2 separate regions of the Homo sapiens genome follow, and region 1 is linked to region 2. Evidence: fine-mapped expression QTL. Tissue or cell type: whole blood. Region 2 holds a variant in brackets; the other region holds the start of a gene. All regions are shown on one strand. Distances are from middle to middle.

Region 1 (10,727 bases), 29 kb before region 2:
AGGCCCTGAGAGATTATGTGGCTTGTTCAGTCCTGCAAACCCAGATCTCCCTGCCTGAAATCTGGTATGACCCAGCAGGACCCACCTGGGGCACAGCTTCCCTGGGATGGTGTTAAAATGAAGGTTCTGACTCTGACTCTGATGGCCGGTCAAGCAGCTCCTCCCGCCATGACCTTCAAGGCCCAGGTGTCTCCCTCTCCTTCCCACTGCCTACACCGCCCAGTTCAGAAGAGGGTACAGGAACTCGCCTGAGGCTGAAGCCATAACTGCCAGCTCTATTCCAAGCCCTGAGCATTTACACTGAGGAAGTCTGCAAATCCTCACCACAGCTTCTAGGGGGAAACTGAGGTTGGGAGGGACTCTTCCTTGGCTAAGGTCACCGAGGTGTTGGGAGGCAGAACAAGGGTTTTGATGCAGGCCACCTGGCTCCAGGGCCCCACCCCAACCATGGGCTGAACATGGAAATGAATGCTTAGGCCAGGAAACCAGAACCTCTGGGTTCTTTCCTCCTGGGCTGCATACTGTTCTTTCCCCTCTTTTATAGAATTTGAGCCAAAGATGGAAAGTGATCAATTGCTTCATCAGCAAACCCTGCTCATCTGTTTTCCAGGTGCAGAAATCACCAAAGGCAGGGGGAGGACACGTGCTGAGATGTTCATCCTCGGAAGCTGCAGTCAGGACCTACCTTCCCATGGAGTTGCCACAGCCAGATGCCCACTCACCCCATAGGGAGAGAGAGCCTCCTGCCTGGGGCCACTTGGAACACCAGAAGTTTGGGCAGGAGGGGTATACGGTTTGGAGAAGAAAATCAAGTGATTTCTCAAAACTGGTTATTCTAGTTAGCAATTCATCTAACTTTTTTTTTTTTTTGACCTGATGTTGTTGAAAAACACAGCATGAGAACTTTGTGAAGCATACACAAGTATCATAGCCAAATCAATCAAGTGGAAGAAAGGATATCAGAAATTGAGGATCAACTTAATGAAATAAAGCAAGAAGACAAGATGAGAGCAAAAGGAATGAAAAGGAATAAACAAAGCCTCCAAGAAATATGGGACTATGTGAAAAGACCAAATCTACATTTGATTGGTGTACCTGAAAGTGACAGGGAGAATGGAACCAAGCTGGAAAACACTCTTCAGGATATTATCCAGGATAACTGCCCCAACCTAGCAAGACAGGCCAACATTCAAATTCAGGAAATATAGACAACACCACAAAGATACTCCTTGAGAACAGCAGCCCCAAGACACATAATCATCAGATTCACCAAGCTTGAAATGAAGGAAAAATGTTAAGGGCAGCCAGAGAGAAAGGTTGGGTTACCCACAAAGGAAAACCCATCAGACTAACAGCAGATCTCTCTGCAGAAACCCTACAAGCCAGAAGACAGTGGGGGCCAATATTCAACATTCTTAAAGAAAAGAATTTTCAACCCAGAATTGCATATCCAGCCAAACTAAGCTTCATAAGTGAAGGAGAAATAAAATCCTTTACAGACAAGCAAATGCTGGGAGATTTTGTCACCACCAGGCCTGCCTTACAAGAGCTCCTGAAGGAAGCACTAAACATGGAAAGGAACAGCTGGTACCAGCCACTGCAAAAACATATCAAATTGTAAAGACCATTGACACGATGAAGAAACTGCATCAACTCATGGGCAAAATAACCAGCTAGCATCATAATGACAAGATCAAAATCATAATAATAATATTAACCATAAATGTAAATGGGCTAAATGCCCCAATTAAAAGACACAGACTGGCAAATTGAATGGAGTCAAGACTCATTGGTGTGCTGTGTTCAGGAGACCCATCTCACATGCGAAGACACAAATAGGCTCAAAATAAATACATGGAGGAATATTTACCAAGCAAATGGAAACCAAAAACAAAGCAAGGGTTGCAATCCTAGTCTCTGATAAAACAGACTTCAAACCAACAAAGATCAAAAACGACAAAGAAGGGTATTACATAATGGTAAAGGTATTAATTCAACAAGAAGAACTAACTATCCTAAATATACATGCACCCAATACAGAAGCACCTACATTCATAAAGCAAGTTCTTAGAGACCTACAAAGAGACCTACACTCCCACACAATAATAATGGGAGATTTTAACACCCTGTCAATATTATAACAATGAGACAGAAAATTAATAAGGATATTCAGGATTTGAACTAAGCTCTGGACCATGCAGACCTAATAGACATCTACAGAACTCTCCACCCCAAATCAACAGAATATACATTCTTCTCAGCATCTCATTGCACTTATTCTAAAATTGACCACATAATTGGAAGTAAAACACTCCTCAGCAAATACTAAAGAATGGAAGTCATAACAAACAGTCTCTCAGACCACAGTGCAATCAAATTAGAACTCAGGATTAAGAAACTCACTCAAACCTGAACAACTACATGGAAACTGAACAACCTGCTCCTGAATGACTACTGCGTACATAATGAAATTAAGGCAGAAATAAAGATGTTCTCTGAAACCAATCAGAACAAAGACACAATGTACCAGAATCTCTAGGACACATTTATAGCAGTGTGTAGAGGGAAATTTATAGCACTAAATGCCCACAAGAGAAAGCAGGAAAGATCTAAAATTGACACCCTAACATCACAAGTAAAAGAACTAAAGAAGCATGAGCAAACAAATTCAAAAGCTAGCAGAAGACAAGAAATAACTAAGATCAGAGCAGAACTGAAAGTGATAGAGACATGAAAAACCTTTCAAAAAATCAATGAATCAAGGAGCTGGTGTTTTGAAGAGATCAACAAAATAGATAGACCACTAGCAAGACTAATAAAGAAGAAAAGAGAGAAGAATCAAATAGATGCAATAAAAAATGATAAAGGGGATATCACCAGTGATCCCATAGAAATACAAACTACCATCAGAGAATACTGTAAATGCCTCTAAACTAATAAACTAGAAAATCTAGAAGAAATGGGTAAATTCCTGGACACACACACCCTCCCAAGTCTAAACCAGGAAGAAGTCGAATCCCTGAATCGATCAATAACAAGTTCTGAAATTGAGGCAGTAATTAATAGCCTACCAACCAAAAAAAAGTCCAGGACCAGATGGATTCACAGCTGAATTCTACCAGAGGTACAAAGAGGCGCTGCTACCATTCCTTCTGAAACTATTCCAAACAAGAGAAAAAGAGGGAATCCTCCCTAACTCATTTTATGAGGCCAGCATCATCCTAATACCAAAACCTGGCAGAAACACAACAAAAAGAAAATTTCAGGCCAATATCCCTGATGTCCCATCAATGTGAAAATCCTCAATAAAATATGGCAAACTGAATCCAGCAGCACATCAAAACTTATCCACCATGATCAAGTCAGCTTCATACCTGGAATGCAAGGCTGGTTCAACATATGCAAATCAATAAACGTAATCCAGCATATAAACAGAACCAATGAGAAAAACCACATGATTATCTTAATAGATGCAGAAAAGGCCTTCAACAAAATTCAACACCCCTTCATGCTAAAAACTCTGAATAAAGTAGGTTTTGATGAACTGTATCTTAAAATAATAAGAGCTATTTATGACAAACCCACAGCCAATATCATACTGAATGGACAAAAACTTGAAGCATTCCCTTTGAAAACTGGCACAAGACTAGGATGCCCTCTCTCACCACTCCTATTCAACATAGTGTTGGAAGTTCTGGCCAGGGCAATTAGGCAGGAGAAGGAAATAAAGAGTATTCAAATAGGAAAAGAGGGAGTCAAATTGTCTCTGTTTGCAGATGACATGACTGTATATTTAGAAAACCCCATCATCTCAGCCCAAAATCTCCACAAGCTGATAAGCAACTTCAGCAAAGTCTCAGGATACAAAATCAATGTGCAAAAATCACAAACATTCCTATACACCAATAATAGACAAACAGAGAGTGAAATTATAAGTGAACTCCCATTCACAATTGCTACAAAGAGAATAAAATACCTAGGAATACAACTTACAAGGGATGTGAAGGACCTCTTCAAGGAGAACTACAAACCACTGTTCAAGGAAATAAGAGAGGATACAAATAAATGGAAAAACATTCCATGCTCATGGATAGGAAGAATCAATGTTGTGAAAATGGCCATACTGCCCAAAGTAATTTATAGATTCAGTGATATCCCCCATCAAGCTATCATTGACTTTCTTCACAGAATTGGAAAAAACTACTTTAAAGTTCATAGGGAACCAAAAAAGAGCCTGCATAGCCAAGACAATCCTAAGCAAAAAGAACAAAGCTGGAGGCATCATGCTATCTGACTTCAAACCATACTACAAGCCTACAGTAACCAAAACAGCATGGTACTGGTACCAAAACAGATATATAGACCAATGGAACAGAACAGAAGCCCAGAAATAACACCACACATCAACAACCACCTGATCTTTGACAAACCTGACTAAAACAACCAATGGGGAAAGGATTCCCTATTTAATAAATGGTGTTGGGAAAACTGGCTAGCCATTTGCAGAAAACTGAAACTGGACCCCTTCCTTACACCTTATACAAAAATTAACTCAACATGGATTAAGGACTTAAGACCTAAAACCATAAAAACCCTAGAAGAAAACCTAGGCAGTACCATTCAGGACATAGGCATGGGCAAAGACTTCATGACTAAAACACCAAAAGGAATAGCAACAAAAGCCAAAATTGATAAATGGGACCTAATTAAACTAATGAACTTCCACACAGCAAAAGAAACTGTCATCAGAGTGAACAGGCAACCTACAGAATGGGAGAAAATTTTTGCAATATATCCATTTGACAAAGAGCTAATGTCGAGAATCTACAAGGAACTTAAACAATTGACAAGAAAAAAACAACCCCATCAAAAATTGGGTGAAGGATATGAACAGACACTAAAAAGAAGACATTTATGCAGCCAAGAAACATATGAAAAAACGCTCATCATCACTGGTCATTAGAGAAATGCAAATCAAAACCACAATGAGGTACCATCTCATGCCAGTTAGAATGGTGATCGTTAAAAAGTCAGGAAGCAACAGATGCTGGAGAGGATGTGGAGAAATAGGAACGCTTTTACACTGTTGGTGGGAGTGTAAATTAGTTCAACCATTGTGGAAGACAGTGTGGTGATTCCTCAAGGATCTAGAACCAGAAATACCATTTGACCCAGCAATTTCATTACTGGGTATATACTCAAAAATCATTCTACTATAAAGACACATGCACACGTATGTTTACTGCAGCACTAGTCACAATAGCAAAGACTTGGAACCAACCCAAATGCCCATCAATGGTAGACTGGATAAAGAAAATGTGGCACATATACACCATGGAATACTATGCAGCCATAAAAAAGATGAGTTCATGTCCTTTGCAGGGACATGGATGAAGCTGGAAACCATCATTCTCAGCAAACTAACACAAGAACAGAAAACCAAACACCGCATGTTCTCATTCATAGGTGGGAGTTGAACAATGAGAACACATGGACACAGGGAGGGGAACATCACACACCAAGGACTATCTGGGGATCCGGGGCCAGGGGAGGGATAGCATTTGGAGAAATACCTAATGTAGATGATGGGTTGATGGGTGCAGCAAACCACCATGGCACGTGTATACCTATGTAACAAACCTGCATGTTCTGCACATGTACCCCAGAACTTAAGTAATTAAAAGAAAAAGGAAAATCAAGTGATTTTGCTTTTGAAAATTCCTGCTAATGTTTTTCATGCAACATCTCTTTCGTGTGTGGCTCAGGGGTAGAACATTGCATCAGGATTTGCTCATGGGTCTCATGTCTCTTCCTCCTCCCCCAGCAAATGACGGCTGCTCGGAAACTTTTATAAAGGAAGCGGTTGCTTTGTGGCTGATAGATCTGAAGGTGAAGAGCTTCTGGCCAAAATGATTCAGCAGCAAAACACTCCCCTCCCCAGCACCACGCAGGCAGCCCCCTAGCCCCGCCCCTGCCCCATCCCACAGTGGTTTGCAGGGTGGGGTTCCATGCTGTGGCCCTGGCACCTGCCCCTGGGCTGGGACAGCCCACTGTTCCATGCTGCCCAAGAAGGCTCAGCACAGGCACAAACCATTGCCCGGCACTGGCCCGTGCTGCCTGAGAAGGATTGGCACGGGCACAGACCACTGCCCCCACCTGCCCTGCGCCATCTACCCAAGAAGGCTCGGCACGGGCACCAACCACTGCCTCCAACTGCCCCATGCTGCCTGAGAAGGCACTGCACGGCCACCCCCAACTGCCCCGCACTGTCCCTACCCGGGCAGCCATGCGAGCGGCTGGAACTCTGCTGGCCTTCTGCTGCCTGGTCTTGAGCACCACTGGGGGCCCTTCCCCAGGTAAGTGGCGTTCTCCCCTGTCCGCTCCCCGGGGGTCTCTCCCTGAGATTGGCCACTGGTGCCTTGGGTCTTCCCCAGGGCACTTTCCTAGCTTGGAGCCCCCACAGGACCATGCGGTGGTGAGAGGTGCTGGGAGTGGTGAGAGGGGCAAGGGGCTCCATCTGGCTGCAGCTACCTTTGGGGGTAGCAGGCTACAGGGATGAAGGGTTTGGGGGCTGCCCCAGAAGGCTAGGGGCAAGGGAAGCATCTTCTATTCTCTGGCTCTTCACAGAGGTCTGAGAAAGGTCTAAGTAAGGCAGGTCTCCCGCAGCTCCTCTGCGGGACGGAGGCGACAGGGCAGCCACATGCCTGTGGTTAGCCGCTTCTATCTGATGGCTTGTCATTCCTTCCTGCTGGCTGTTGTCCTGTGACTTGGCTCCAGGGACCCTAACGATCAGACTCTTTCACCCTTCCTGAAATCCACTCCCTGAGGGTCAGCACTCAGGGGGAGGGGGGACAGGGAGGAAAGAGCCACTGCCTGTGCACTGGGAAACTGAGACACAGCCAGGCTAGGTGATTTGCCCAAGTCACACAGCCAGGGACAACCTGCTCTCCCCCAAAGGGAACTGGGCCATGGCCTCCCTGGCACAGGAATCAGACCAGGATACTGATGGGGACTTGGGAGGCCCCCACCTCATTTAACCAACCAGGAAGCTGGCACCAGAGGGCTGAGGTGACCCGCTCAAGTCATATGACCCCCACCCAGCAGACAGGGACAGAAGGGGGCTGGAGCCTGGCCAAAGGGGCCCAGGTGGGGGCTGTGCAGCAGGACCACTGACAAGAGGATGGCTCCAGAGCACCCAAGGGGTTCTTGGAGGGTTCTCACCTCCTCCTGGTGAGTCAGGATACTGAGGACTCAGTGATGCTGGGGGACACTGTGTCGAGCTCCCAGGCCTGGCCTAGGGCGGACGCTGCGACTGAGCAGCCAAGGGGACACGGCAGGCTGGAGGAGGGGCCGGGGGCAGCTTCTGCTCTCACTGATGGGAACATGCCACCGCCACCAGCTCTGGGTAGTGCTCAGCGAACATGGAGCTGACCCATGGCTGGCAGAAGGCTGGGGACAGCATACCCGGCCCTGCCTCCCAGCTTGGGAGCCTTCTTAGCTCACGCAAGGAGCCCTCCACCTGCTTCCCAGCCTCACAGGGGCCTCTCCTCCTGGCCCTGTCCTGATGCAGTGCTGCCTGCCTGCTGCCATTCTGTGCCCTGCCCCTTCGTGTCTCCAAGGTCCAAGGGGGAAGCAGGGAAGAGAGGCAAGTTCACTCCAGAGAAGTGGCTCGTTCTCACACCTCAGAAAAGGCTCTCCTGGAGGGGACATGGAGCCAGCTGTCCTAGCGTGTCCTGGGATCTAATTAAACCTACTGACTGCTGAGGGGTTTCAGAGCTCTGCTCATCTCACGGAGCAGGCTAGGGACTATAACAGGGTGGCGTGGGAGCCGATGTGCTGGGCAGCTGGCAACGTCATTTTCCTGGGTGGTGTTCCCGGCCCCTCGCTGGTATGTAATGCTGCACCAAGCCTTTCCCTCCATTCTCAGCAGACCTGCTGTCAGCCACCAAACCCCAGAGAGAAGCTCCAGAGCCCACGTTCACACACACAGAGCGGGCCCTCAGCCTCAGTCCTACCATCCATGAAATGGGAAGATAACTGCACCCCGTCTCCGGCCCTGGGGAGGCTGAACAGAGGTGGCTCGGGGAAGGCACAGGCATGGAGGCACATGGGGCATGGGGTGCTCTCCGCCAGCCTCAGCCCCCTGCTCTGTCTAGTGCAGGCCCTTCTGCCACTGTGCTGGTGACAGCCCCCAGCACCCTGCCCAGGCGCTGTGATCATTTCTGGTGCTTCCAGCAAGGGCCTTCAGTCTTCGGCTGTATAGGGAGGGTGCTGGGAGGCCCCCAGTCTAGCAGCAAAAAAGAGATGGGAACCTGGGCCCCAGACACAAGCATGCGTCCTGCCCCCACTCCACAACTCCTACAGCCCCTCCGCTGCCTCCTCTGAGAATAAATTACAGAGCCTTCCTCATGACTGAGGGGGGTAGGGGGCGGGGAAGCAACAGGGACCCCAAGGGTGGTGCCGTCTGAGCATCTGGCCTCTCTCCACACCCATGCACTGAACTGCACAGACCATAGCGCTGAGCCCCTCAGGGCACCTCTCCTCCCTGAGGCTTTCAGAACCTAGGAAATTGCCACACTGGCTTCCGCCACCCTTTTGAAAAGGGCTGTTTCTTTCTCAATCTGATGGGCATCTCTTCTGGGAAGCTCTGCCAGGTGCCATGTCATCCTCTGCCCCCTCCACTCTAGCTGCAACGGCCCATCTGCCTGGACAGGGGCCCTGGGGTCAGGGAGCCATTTCAGCTTCCCTCTGCAAGGTGATGTCAGTCCTTACTTCCCAGTAGCAGAGAGACCACTTGCAGCCCGGGGACCTCCTGCCTCCTGGGGAGCACTGGGAGCTGCCGCAGGCTGAGCCACCGTCTACGTGGCAAGATTTGTTTTTCCCAATGGGGGCATTCATTTGCCCTGAGACCCCTGCTGTGGCCATGTGCATTTTGATATATTGATAATGATTACAGTTTTGCACATCATTTATTGACAAGTGCTTCGTGTATGTTGCCTCATATATTCTCACTGTCGTCAGCATCCTCATTTTACAGGTGAGGACACGGAGGCTCAGAGAGGTTAGGCAGCTTGCCTGAGATCATACAGCCAGTGAGAAGCAGAGCTGGAATTCAAACTCCGGGTGTGTCCCAGTGGGTTAAGGTCGGGACTGATCTGGTAGAGCTCAGTGTCCTGTCTGTGCCAGGGGCATGTGTGTGCCCTCAAAAGATAGACTCCGCCATTAGCCATCAGGCAGAGACCCAAGAGCACAGCGGGCAGGTGTGGCCCCAAGGACCCAGGCTCTCTGAATTTTGATGGTGTCATGTGAGAGGGCTTGGGGTGAAGCGTCTCCAGGTGGGCAGAGTGAACACCAGCACCTCTAAGCTGGACTTGCACCCCCCCAACACCCCAGTGCTCAGGCACAGCCATGCAGACCTTATGCTCTGGGTGATGGGGGCCGATGGGGCCCCTCTCAAAGGGTCTCCCCACCCAGCTCAGTACTGGCCCATGGAAAGGGCACCCCCTGAGGTGACACAGGGAGGGACACCAGCAGGGACCATCTGCGTCCAGCTCTCGGCACCCAGGTCCCCATCTCAGGGATGGTTTCACAAGCAGGGGCTTCCCAACCTCCCGGCCACACCTAGAACACTCCTGAAAGAGGGAGGAGGTGGGCAATGCCAGCCCCCGCTGTGCCCACCCATTTTCCTACTAAAGGCAGGTGGGAAGGGTCTGCCTGGTGCCACCACAGCGATCCCTGCCCATGTTTTCTCTCCTCAGGTTGGCTTAGTGCCAGCTCTGCCACTGGGCCTATGCTCTGAGGACAGGAACGTACCCTGCCCAGGGCATGCCCAGCAGCTGTCAGAAACTGCAGCTCCCTGCTGCCTTGGGCAGAGGCCCTGGCAACTCCCCTGGCCTGGCAGCTTCACATCTGCACCCCATTGCACACTGGTCCTCGGGCACCCGGACAGGACTTTGCCCCATGCACACAGCCAGTAGATGCTCAGAAACACGGGGCTGCAGCAGAAAAGCAGGGTGATCGCAGGATCACCAGACAAGGAGATGGAGGAAACTCAAATCCATCTCCCCGAGGAGGCTGGGGCCCGGGTTTTTAAGGGTTCTGGAGCTCGATAGCTGGAAGGGGCAGCGTGATGTCACAGCACAGGGAGAGGAAGAAGCTGTATTTTCGTGATGATCCTGTTCCTCCGTGGGGGGTTTCCAAACTGGTTGCTGGAATTGGGATCTGAAAAACATCTTGGGCCAGCAGCAGCCTGATTCAAGCTTAATTATGAGTATCTTTCTGTCCAGAACCTGGCATGCAATTCTTGTCAACCTTAGGGGACAGTTTCATTTGCCTTCCTGTGACCATGTGTCCTGGGGCCTGCTCAGCACCTGGTATCATCAGGCCCTGCCCGCCCCTGCCTCACCTCCAGCTTCTACGTCTGGAAGCTCCCTACCTGTCTCAGGCATGGCCCACCTCCCCTCCCACCCCGCATTAGAAGCAGTGGTGGGCTGGGGTCAGGCTGCCCCGGCAGGCTCCTGGTGCGAGCCTCGCACATGGCAGGTCCCCCATTCCCCTCGAGCAGGCCTGGCCTGCCCCAGGCATTGTTTCTATACAGACGGATTTTATGTGCCTTTTGTTTCTTCTCACAAGCCTGACGGTCCGTGGGTTCTTTCCGTTGACGTCATCGCGGCCATCACCACCATCACCCTCTGCACCCAGCAGCAGCCTCCAGCGGGGTCTCCCCA
Region 2 (10,727 bases):
GTTCACTGTGGGGTGCTCACTGCAGGTGGTTATTGCAGGGTGTTCACTGTGGGGTGCTCATTGCAGGTGCTTATTGCAAGGTGTTCACTGTGGGGTGCTCACTGCAGGTGCTTATTGCAGGGTGTTCACTGTGAGGTACTCACTGCAGGTGCTTACTGCAGGGTGTTCAAGTGGAGTGCTCACTGCAGGTGCTTATTGCAGGGTGTTATTGCAGGGTGTTCACTGTGGGGTGCTCACCACAGGGGCTTATTGCAAGATGTTCACTGTGGGGTGCTCACTGCAGGTGCTTATTGCAGGGTGTTCACTGTGAGGTACTCACTGCAGGTGCTTACTGCAGGGTGTTCAAGTGGAGTGCTCACTGCAGGCGCTTATTGCAGGGTGTTATTGCAGGGTGGTCACTGTGGGGTGCTCACCGCAGGGGCTTACTGCAGGGAGTTCACTGTGGGGTGTTCACTGCAGATGCTTATTGCAAGGTGTTCACTGTGGGGTCCTCACTGAAGGTGCTCACTACAGGTGCTTATTGCAGGGTGTTCACTGTGGGGTGCTCACTACAGGTGCTTATTGCAGGGTGCTCACTACAGGTGCTTTTGTGGGTCATTAACTGTAGGGTGCTCATTGCAAGTACCACTGCAGGTGTTCACTATAGGTGCTCACTGTAGGTGCTTACTGCAGGGTGTTCACTGTGGGGTGCTCACTGCAGGTGCTTACTGTAGGGTGCTCACCATGGGTGATCACTCCAGGTGCTATTGTAGGTGCTGACCATGGGTGCTCACTGCAAATGCTTATTGCAGGGTGTTCACTGTGGGATGCTCACTGCAGGGTGCTTACTGCCAAAATGGCACGGAAAAAGGCAGGTTAAAGAACTGATGTAGGGTATAATTCCATCATACGTGTGGGTGTGCATGTCCATGAACAAAAAGATGTCTGAAAAGTGAACCACTAAAATGTTCATAACAATTACATCTGAAAAGACTCAGGTGATTTTTATTTTCTCCTTTGTACCTTTGTGTTGTTTGTGTTTATGAAAATACATCACTTTAATAAAAACATTCCAGCTATTAAAAAATGATAACTATTAAGTCTATAGACTATCAGTTTTAAACAGTGAGTCTTCTACTCTAGTTTTCCAAAATTTGAATGACTTAAGGGTATTCTCACTTACAGGGCTGAAATTCCTGAGACCAAGGCAGAATAACACTTACACATCCAAGTAATGACAAGGCCACCTACTTTTCCACAGCAGCACTGTGATAACACCTATTAGCCTCTGAAGTACCGCAAAGGTAAACGGGGACCCCAATAAAATGGTGAGGGGCGAGGCCCATGCAGTACCAAGCAGGGGCCACAGCCACTACCCAGCTGCAAAATGGGGACTGTAGGTGACCATCAGGCACCGTGAGGCCCAAGGACCACCCGGCAAATGAAGAGCTCGTAGTGACGTCATGTTCCATCTACTAGATGGTCAGAGGTTCTTTTTCTCCCACAGGCATTCTAGGGAAAAGCAGTTCCACACAACGATCCAACATCTTTCTGAAAGACTGGAAGAGACACATCGAGGGATTATCACCAACTTACTGCAAGGGCCCGAACCAAACCGGGCAATGGTCTCTATTTCACCATTTTCAAGTTTTACGACCCGGCCATCTGCTGTCCCAGTAAACATCACATCTGTTTAAAAACACAAAAAGGAGGAAGAGCAATGTTAGCCTAAGAAATGTGACTAAGCCGCCTTCTCCTACAAGAGGGCTTGTTTACATGTTCCCCCTGCCCTATAGAGGAAATGCCAATTCTCAAGATGGAAGAGAAGCAATTTCTGGGAATATGAAAAATCCTTAAAACTTACAGTGATAAAACTGCGGGGGCCTAGGGAAGCAGCCTGTGGGCATGAACCTGACTCAAAAGCAAGGGTGCAGCAGATACCAGTCAGTGATGAGAACTGTGAGGATTTTCTCCAGTCCTGAAGCACTCAAGCTGACACTCAGCACTTAGGGGCATGAGTTCATATTCACCTCACATCAGTGTCTGCTGCTGATATTGATTATATCCAACTAAAGGAGAAGAACTGCCAGAAATCCTTTAGAAGAAAATTACAGCACATTAAGTGCTTACTTCAGCAGCACATATACTAAAATTAGAATGATACAGAGAAGACTACTAGCATGCCCCTTGAGCAATGATGATACACAAATTCATAAAACATTCCATAGTTTTCAAATGTATATTGCAAACTCAAGGGTAACCACTACAAAAAGTAAAAAAAAGAAGTATAACTGATATGCTAAGAAAGGAGAGAAAATGGAATCATATAAAATACTCAGTTTAAAACTACAAAAGACAAAAAGAGAGTAGAATGCAAAAATAGAAACAAAGAATAAGGGCAAAGAATAGAAAACAGTAACAAATACGGTAGATATTAATCCAATATATCAATAATCACTTTAAACATAAATGGTCTAAATATACCAACTGAAAGAGAGACATTGCCAGAATTATTCAAAAAACAAGACCCAACTCTATGTTGTGTACAAGAAACCCACTTTAAATATAAAGACATATATAGATTAAAAGTGAAGGGATGAAGAAAGTACATCATGTTAACACTAACCAAAAGCAACCCAGAATAGCTGTATTAAATTCAGACAGAGAACACTTCAGACCAAGGAAAGTTATCAGGGATAAAGAGGAGCATCACACAATGACAAAGGGGTCAATGCCTCAAAAAAACATAAGAACCTTTAATGTGTATATGCTTCACAATAGAGCACCAATATGTGAGGCAAAAACTGATGAAACTGCAAGGAGAAACAGAATCCACTATCACAGTTAGAGACTTCAACAATCTAAACAAGAATAATCACATGATCATATCAACAGATACAGAAAAAAACATCTAGTAACATCCAACACCCATTCATGATTAAAAACTCTCAGCAAGCTGGGAGTAGAGGGGAAACTTTCTTAACTTGATCAAGAATATCTATAAAAAAATCTACATATAACATCATACTTATGGATGACAAACTAGAAGCTTTCCTGCTAAGATCAAGAACAAGGCAAAGATGCCCCTATCACCACTCCTTTTCAGTATCATACTTGAAGACCTAGCTAATGCAGTAAGACATGAAAAGGAAACAAAAGGTATACAGATTGAGAAGAAAGAAATAAAACTTTCTTTGTTTGCAAGTGACATAATTGTCTAGATAGAAAATCTGAAAGAATCAACAACAACAAAAAACCCTCCTGGAACCAAGCAATTATAGCATGGTTGCAGGATATTGCAAGATATTGACTCACCTTCCTTTATACTAACAATGAACAAATGGAATTTGGAATTGAAAACACAATACTATGTACATTAGCATCCAAAAGATTGGCATACTTAGGTATAAATATAATATAATATACACGAGGTCTATATGAGGAAAACTAGAATATTCTGATGAAAGAAATCAAAGAACTAAATAAATGGAGAGATATTCCATGTTCATGGACAGGAATACTCAATATTGTCAAGATGTCAGTTTTTCCCAACCTTAATCTATAGATTCAATGCAATCCCAATCAAAATCCCAGCAAGTTATTTTGTAGATACAGACAAATGAATCCTAAAGTTCATATGGAGAGGGCGAAGACTCAAAATATCCAATACAATATTGAAGGAAAAGAATAAAGTCAGAGGACTGAAACTACTCAACTTCAAGATTCTCTATAAAGCTACAGTAATCAAGACAATGTGGTATTAGCAAAAGAATAGAAAAATAAATCAATAGAACAGATAAAATTTTTAGCCCAGAGACAGACCCACATAAATACAATCAACTGATCTTTTGACAAAGGAGTAAAGGCAATGCATAATGGAGAAAAGACAGTGTTTTCCACAAATGGTGCTGGAACAAATTTGTTTGCATCCACATGCAAACAAATAAATCTAGACACAAACCTTATACCCTTCACAAAAATGGAATTCAAAATGGATCATAGACCTAAAT[A/G]TAAAATACAAAACAAATTCCTAGAACATAGGAGAAAATCTAGGTATGATGATGAATTTTTAGATATAACACCTAGGGTATGATGATGAATTTTTAGATATAAAACCAAGGTGAGATACATGAAGAAATAATTAATAAGTGAAACTTCATTAAAATTAAAAACTCTTGCTCTACAGAAGATACTGTCAAAAGAATGAGAAGCCACAGACTGGAGAAAATATTGGCAAACAACATGTCTGATAAAGAACTATTATCCAAAATACACAAACAACTCTTAAAACTCAACAATAAGAAAATGAACAACCCAATTACAAAAATGGGCAAAAGGCCTGAACAGACACATCACCAAGAAGATATACAGATGGCAGGTAGGCATATGAAGATATTCCACATCAAATATCATCAGAGAAATGCAAATTAAAACAACGAGACACCACTATACACCTATTAAAAGGGCCAAAATCCAAAACACTGACACCACCAAATGCTGGCGAGGACATGGAGCATCAGGAACTCTCACTAATTGTTAATGGGAAGGCAAATGGTACAGCCACTTTGGAAACGCTTGGTGGTTTCTTACAAAACTTAACTCTTACCATACAATCCAGCAATTATGCTTTTCGGTATTTACCCAAATGAGCTGAAAACTTAGGTCCACACAAAAACCTGCCCACAGATGTTTATACCAGCCTTATTCATAACTGCCAAAACTTAGCAGCAACCAAGATGTACTTCAGTAGGTAACTAAACTGTGGCACATCCATACAATGGAATATTACTCAGTGCTAAAAAGAAATGAGCTATCAACCCATGGAAAGACATGGAGGAATTTTAAATAAATGCATACTACTAAGTGAAAGATGCCAATCTGAAAAGGCTACATACTGTATGAGTCCAGCTACATAACATTCTGGAAAAGGCAAAACTATGGAGATGGCAAAAAGATCAGTGGTTGCCATGGGTTAAAAGAAAAGGGTGGAATGAACAGGCAGAGCAAAGAGGATTTTCAGGGCAGTGAAAACACCCTGTAAGATACCATAACAGTGGATACATGGCATTTGTCCAAACCCATAGAATGTATAAAACCAAGAGTGAACCCTACCGTAAACTACAGACTCCGAGTACTATTGACGTATTGATGTGAGTACATCACTTGTAACAAACTTACCCTTGTGGTGGGGGATGTTGATCATGTGGGAGGCTGTGCATGGCATGTGTGCAGAAAAAGTATTTGACGAAATGCAACACCCAATCGTAATAAAAACTCTTTTTCAGAAAATCTCTGTACCTTCTGCTCAATTTTGCTGTGAACCTAAAACTGCTCTTAAAAATAAAGTCTACTTAAAAACAAATAAAATAAAGCCTGCTATAGTTGGTGGTTACTCTCTCCCAGCACTCCCCAGAGCTAGTACCTCCTTCCACTGTCAGCAACCTGCCAGCCAGCCCCCAGGACAGCTTCCAAATGAGGTGGCAGAGACAGCAGTGGCAGGTCCCTGCGGCTCACACCCACCAGAGAGGACCCCACTGTGCCTGGCCAAGAAATGTCACCAGCTCATCAAAGAAAGAGAAAAAGCTGGGACCTGGTGACAAAGTACAATGAGAAGTAACCCAGTGAAAAAGAAAAAGACAGGAAAGTGCTCTCTTTGGGAGGTAAGATCATTGGTTTGCACTTCAACTGCTGTTAAGTTTCAGTTTTAAAGAGCAAGATTTGATTTTTCACCAAAAAAAGCTAAAGCTTTTAAAATTTACACAAATAAATGCCAATGTCTTTTTAAGAGAAATACAAAGTTCTATCATGATATTTACTCTTCTTGAAACAATTTTGACTTTGACAGCCAAGAAAACAAACCAACTGCAGAAATGGACCAGTCCTTGGGGCCTGTGTCAAATAACAGGGCCCAGGCAAGAGAAGCTGGTCAAACGTCACTAGAAGAGAGGCCACTGACCGGCCTTGAGAGCACAACAGAAGCACCCTGTGTGCACATATCCACAGCCACCCACTGCCTGGAGAACAGTGTGCTTCAGAATAACAAGCGGCACTTCCAAAGAAGCTGCTCAGCAAGCCCATACCAGATTAAGTTTTAAACTATCTGTGACTATCTGTGCCTTCCCAATACTAAACTTAATTCTCATTTTAACAAACAGAAAATGCCTTGTTCAAGGTTGCTAGAGATGCAAGTATTAGAACCAGACCCAATTCTAGTTCTGAGGCATGGGCAAGTGTGATGCAGATGGTTACCCTTAAGTGTACCCATCAAGGTGAGATTTCAAACAGTCAGACAAAAACAGTGGAAATATTGAGAACCATTTGTCTTCATCACAGTGAAATCTATACAAAGCAAATGGAACTAAGAAATACTGTGCTGTCAAATAGCTATTTAACTTTGATAAATGAACTAAAAATCAGTATCTGTATTTGGCCTTTTTCCTTTCACAACACTTTGAGCACAACAAAGTGTTCCATAGAGATGAATTCAAAATCACCCAGTGCTAAAATGGCATGCAAACTGGGCAGATGAGACCAGCAGAAAGAGCCACTAGGGCCTCCCATGTGATGTCTGAGGGCCAAGTCCCACGTCCGCAGCTAAGAAGGATGTGCAGGGCCCCAGTCCAGGGGCAGCGTGCCACTGCAGCTGCTCCCACAGAACCCGCCCCCTCAGACAACAGACAGCCTGGAAGGCTCCCCCCCCACCCAAGCTTAGACTTACCCCCAATATGTGCTATGGACTCCGGTCCAACAAGTTGATTTTCAAACAGCCTTTCTGCCTGTCGCAGCTTCGTATTTGGATGCAGAACACCAAGCAAGAGCGGGGGTTCTTTGAAGCTGCAAAATAATGCAATTCCAGAGATCTGTCTATAAATACACATGTGAAGAAAATGTGTACCGAGCACCTGCTCTCAGTTCTTTGATAAAGATGGCACTTTCTAACAACATCCTCAGTTGCCAGAAATACAAGGGTTAAGAAAAAACTGTTCTAGGATATCAGAAAACATCATGGTACAAAAGAAATATAAAAATATAAATGTGCTAGTGCAAGACCTTCAGCAATCTTGTCACCTGAGAGCATCCTGAGGCCTGTGCCCACCCATCCTCCAGCCTCCCCAGCTCCCCACCCCCATCCAATGCCTCAGGGCAGCTGGACCTCCTCACCCCTGTGACTCACAGCCCTACAGCCACTGGAGTCTACCTAGGGTGGTGGGGGGCAGTGCCCACGTTTCACACCTGATGACCCGGCCTCGTATTTCACAGAGAAGATGGAAGGAGCAAGGGGAGACCTTCCTGGGACTGGAGCCACCGTCCCATGGTCCAGCACAGGGCACGCCACCTCCCGCTGATATTCTCGAGGCCCACCAGGCTCTTCCTGAAGCAGGAGCCTGAGCTGGGCCCTGGAGCCCTTCTACTCACAGACACGGCTCCAGAAACTCCTGCCTCTACTCGTCCTTCCCATCCACATGCCAGTATGTCACGCCTCCCAACCCACCATCAAGTTCTGCTGAGGCCACTTTGAAAAGACACCATTGAACCCGTCTCCCCATGTCCTCCTTACAACCCTGGCTGGGGCCACCATCCTCTCGCCTCGCCCCTGCTCCCTCCCTTGACCCCTGTAGTCTATTCTCAATCCAGCAGCCATGCCGGATCATGACCTTCCTCTATTCAGAGCCCCACAATGGCCCCCTCTCACCTAGAGCCAAGTCCTGGCAGCAGCCTCTGAGCACCGCAACCTGGCCACAGCACCTTCTTGCCCCCTCTCTCCCTTGTGCCTTCTGCATCCCTCACACCAGCCCCTCCCTGCTGGGTCCTAACCACACCAGCATCTCCCTATCCAGGGCCTTCACACCAGCTCTTTGCTCCACTTGGAACAGCAACCATCCCCCACCCAGGAGGCCCACTCTGACCACCCAACTAAATATCCGATACCTCCCCCGAACCCAGGCCCCTGCCCTACTCCATGCTCCTCATAGCACACACCAGCTTCTCATGCACTGTGTGATCTGCTTCTGTTATGTTTATGGTCTGTTTGTCCCCACTAGAACATACGCTCCATGAGATCAGGGATTTCTTTCTGTGTTTTTCTCTACTGTATTCCCAGCATCTGGCACCCAACATGGCACACAGAAGGCTCCCAACGAGCACTGCTGGAGGAAACCAAAGTAGAGAGGAATATCTTCCGATTATCCCCTGTCCCCTGCCTCCAGCAAGGCAGAGAATTCAAGAACAGGAAGGAGCTAAGCGTTGGGGAAAAGTTTATGACAACAGCAAAAAGAGCTTCTTTAAAGCTCTCTTCACAGCAAAAGAGGAAGGAAGGGAAACCCCACCTGGGGCAATTGGTGCCATGCTACGATGACAAGCAGAGCTGCCAGCTTCGCTCGGCCTCGGTCACCTCAACACGCCGGGCAGCATGGGGTCACCATAGTCAAGAGGCCATGCTCGGCCTCGGTCACCTCTACACGCTGGGCAGCGCGGGGCCACCATGGTCAAGAGGCTATGCCACGATGACAAAAGCAGACCTACCAGCTTCGCTTGGCCTCGGTCACCTCTACGCGCCGGGCAGTGCAGGGCCACCACAGTCAAGAGGCCATGCTACCATGACAAAAGCAGACCTACCAGCTTCGCTCAGCCTCTGTCACCTCTACACACTGGGCAGCGTGGCGTCACCATGGTCAAGAGGCCATGCCACAATGACAAAAGCAGACCTACCAGCTTCGCTCGGCCTCGGTCACTTCTACACACCGGGCAGTGTGGGGTCACCATGGTCAAGAGGCCATGCCACGATGACAAGCAGAGCTGCCAGCTTCGCTCGGCCTCCATCACCTCTACACGCCAGGCAGCGCAGGGCCACCATGGTCAAGAGGATCAGGCCAGCAGACGGGGCAGAAACGGCCACTCAGCTGATGGACGGGTGTTTGGGAGTCTACCCAGGATACTACATCACTCCCGTGAGAGCTTAGACCACACTTAGAAATCTCTAAAAAATCAGAGAACAGGCAGACCAGGAGTATGGAGGGACAAAGAGAAGGATGGTCGCTCTTCCAGTCTGGACTATTACACAGCTGGTTTCAGTACTTGAGAACAAAATCACCAGGAAGGCTGCAGGGCTTTGCCAAAAACCTGCCCTGCAAAGTCACTTTCCCTTCTTTCTGGGAAGATTAGAGGGCTGTCATAGACACAGCATATATGACATCCTGATTCCTATAGCATGTACAGAGTAGTTTTCAAGATCCCTGTGACAACGTGGGGAGATGTGAACAGAGTAACAGGGCATCTGTATGATCACGGATGGCTGGCACAAGTGAAGAAAGCCTGCACTAATGCAGTAATACTCAACTGCAGAGAAGTGACCCACTGTGACCCACAGACTGCACAAAGGTTTTCCTAAGCACTTCTGAGAACCAGCTCTCTGAGGTCCCCCACATCTCTCTCCCTAACACAGGAAGCCAGGGTGTGGGGCACTGCTCTCTCCCTCCCCAGCGGGTCTCCTGTTGGCCCTGCCTGAGTTTTATACAGTGCTTCTATTTGCTCTTGATGTCCCAGACCACCCATAAAGGTTGTTGCTATTTTTTAATATCTCTCAGTTTGACAGTTTCACCCGATAGTAAAATGTGTACTTCTAACAGTACTGCAACTTTCAACTCCCAGTAGAATTACTCTTTCTGTTGGTCTTTAAAATTATAGCAACCAAATCCATTCTCCAAAATGCTGCTCTATTTTTTTTTACCATAAATTTGACTTTAACTGATATTTTTTCAGTGACTAGAAACATTCATATCCTTCTATGAAAAATAAACTTTTTGTTCCCTTCTGGAGAGAAACCATGTCCTTCCACAGAGTGACTGTGGGCTGAGAGGGCTGCAGCTGAGTCAGCACCCGCTGGGATGGCGTGCATGGGGCATGGCCTGTGTTGTGGCCACGTTCTTGCATGAGACACACCAAGCTCTGTCATGTACCAGGCTTCTGCTTCTGCTCTGCATTTTGGGGCCTATCTTCCTGTTTTTGAGTGTGCCATGCCAAAAGCAGAGCCCAGGAGAGAGGCCCCTGTTGGCTGTGATTCCAATGCCATAAGCTGAGCCCAGGAGAGAGGTCCCTGTTGGCTGTGATGGTTCCACTGCCATTCTGAAAGCTGAGCCCAGGAGAGAGAGAGAGACCCGTTGGCTGTGACAGTTCCACTGCCATTCCAAAAGCTGAGCCCAGGAGAGAGGTCCCTGTTGGCTGTGATGGTTCCACTGCCATTCCGAAAGCTGAGCCCAGGAGAGAGGTCCCTGTTGGCTGTGATGGTTCCACTGCCATTCCGAAAGCTGAGCCCAGGAGAGAGGTCCCTGTTGGCTGCAGCGGTTCCACTGCTTCTCTTCCTTTCCTTCCTCATCAGGCTTTTCTACTCAACAGATAGAACTCACTTTGTACAAACAACTTCCAATCCCCAGTAGGCTCTGCTTCCTTTCAGTGTCTGGCCAGGGCCACATACCCCATTTCCCAATGCATTTCTTCACCACTCTTTCCACACATAAAATCATCTTTCCTGAGATCAAAGGTCTTCAATCACTGAGGCTCCAACCTCTCTCTCCAACTCAAAACTCAACCTCAGCCTCCTTTTCCAAGGCCAGCCCCCCAACCCAAGCTTCTAATCCCCAGCTGTGGACACAGTTCACTCCCCCACCTTAGCCAACTGGACTATCTAAGAAGGCCCAGGTCAGTTTCCCTTTGGCTAGAATGAGCCATCCTGCTCTGTAAAGAAGGGTTAG

What was found. PIP is the estimated chance that this variant, and not a neighbour inherited with it, causes the effect.
Region 1: CST7 starts here. The variant in region 2 is the best candidate, but not a certain one, in a credible set for the expression of CST7 in whole blood (INTERVAL, PIP 0.84).

The regions. Positions count from the first base shown.
Region 1 is chr20:24,943,220-24,953,946 of GRCh38, forward strand. CST7 (cystatin F) reads left to right here and starts at 6,050. Exons shown (of 4, transcript NM_003650.4): 1 at 6,050-6,356. The coding sequence starts at 6,287. RefSeq lists an enhancer at 5,716-5,765.
Region 2 is chr20:24,972,070-24,982,796 of GRCh38, forward strand. It overlaps APMAP (adipocyte plasma membrane associated protein), which reads right to left. Exons shown (of 9, transcript NM_020531.3): 3 at 6,698-6,813; 4 at 1,576-1,668. It also overlaps the pseudogene RNU6-1257P. Among named protein-coding and RNA genes, the nearest start is that of APMAP, 15 kb to the right of the region's middle. RefSeq lists enhancers at 7,316-7,816, 8,578-9,078. The variant A/G (reference allele first, on the strand shown) is at 3,990.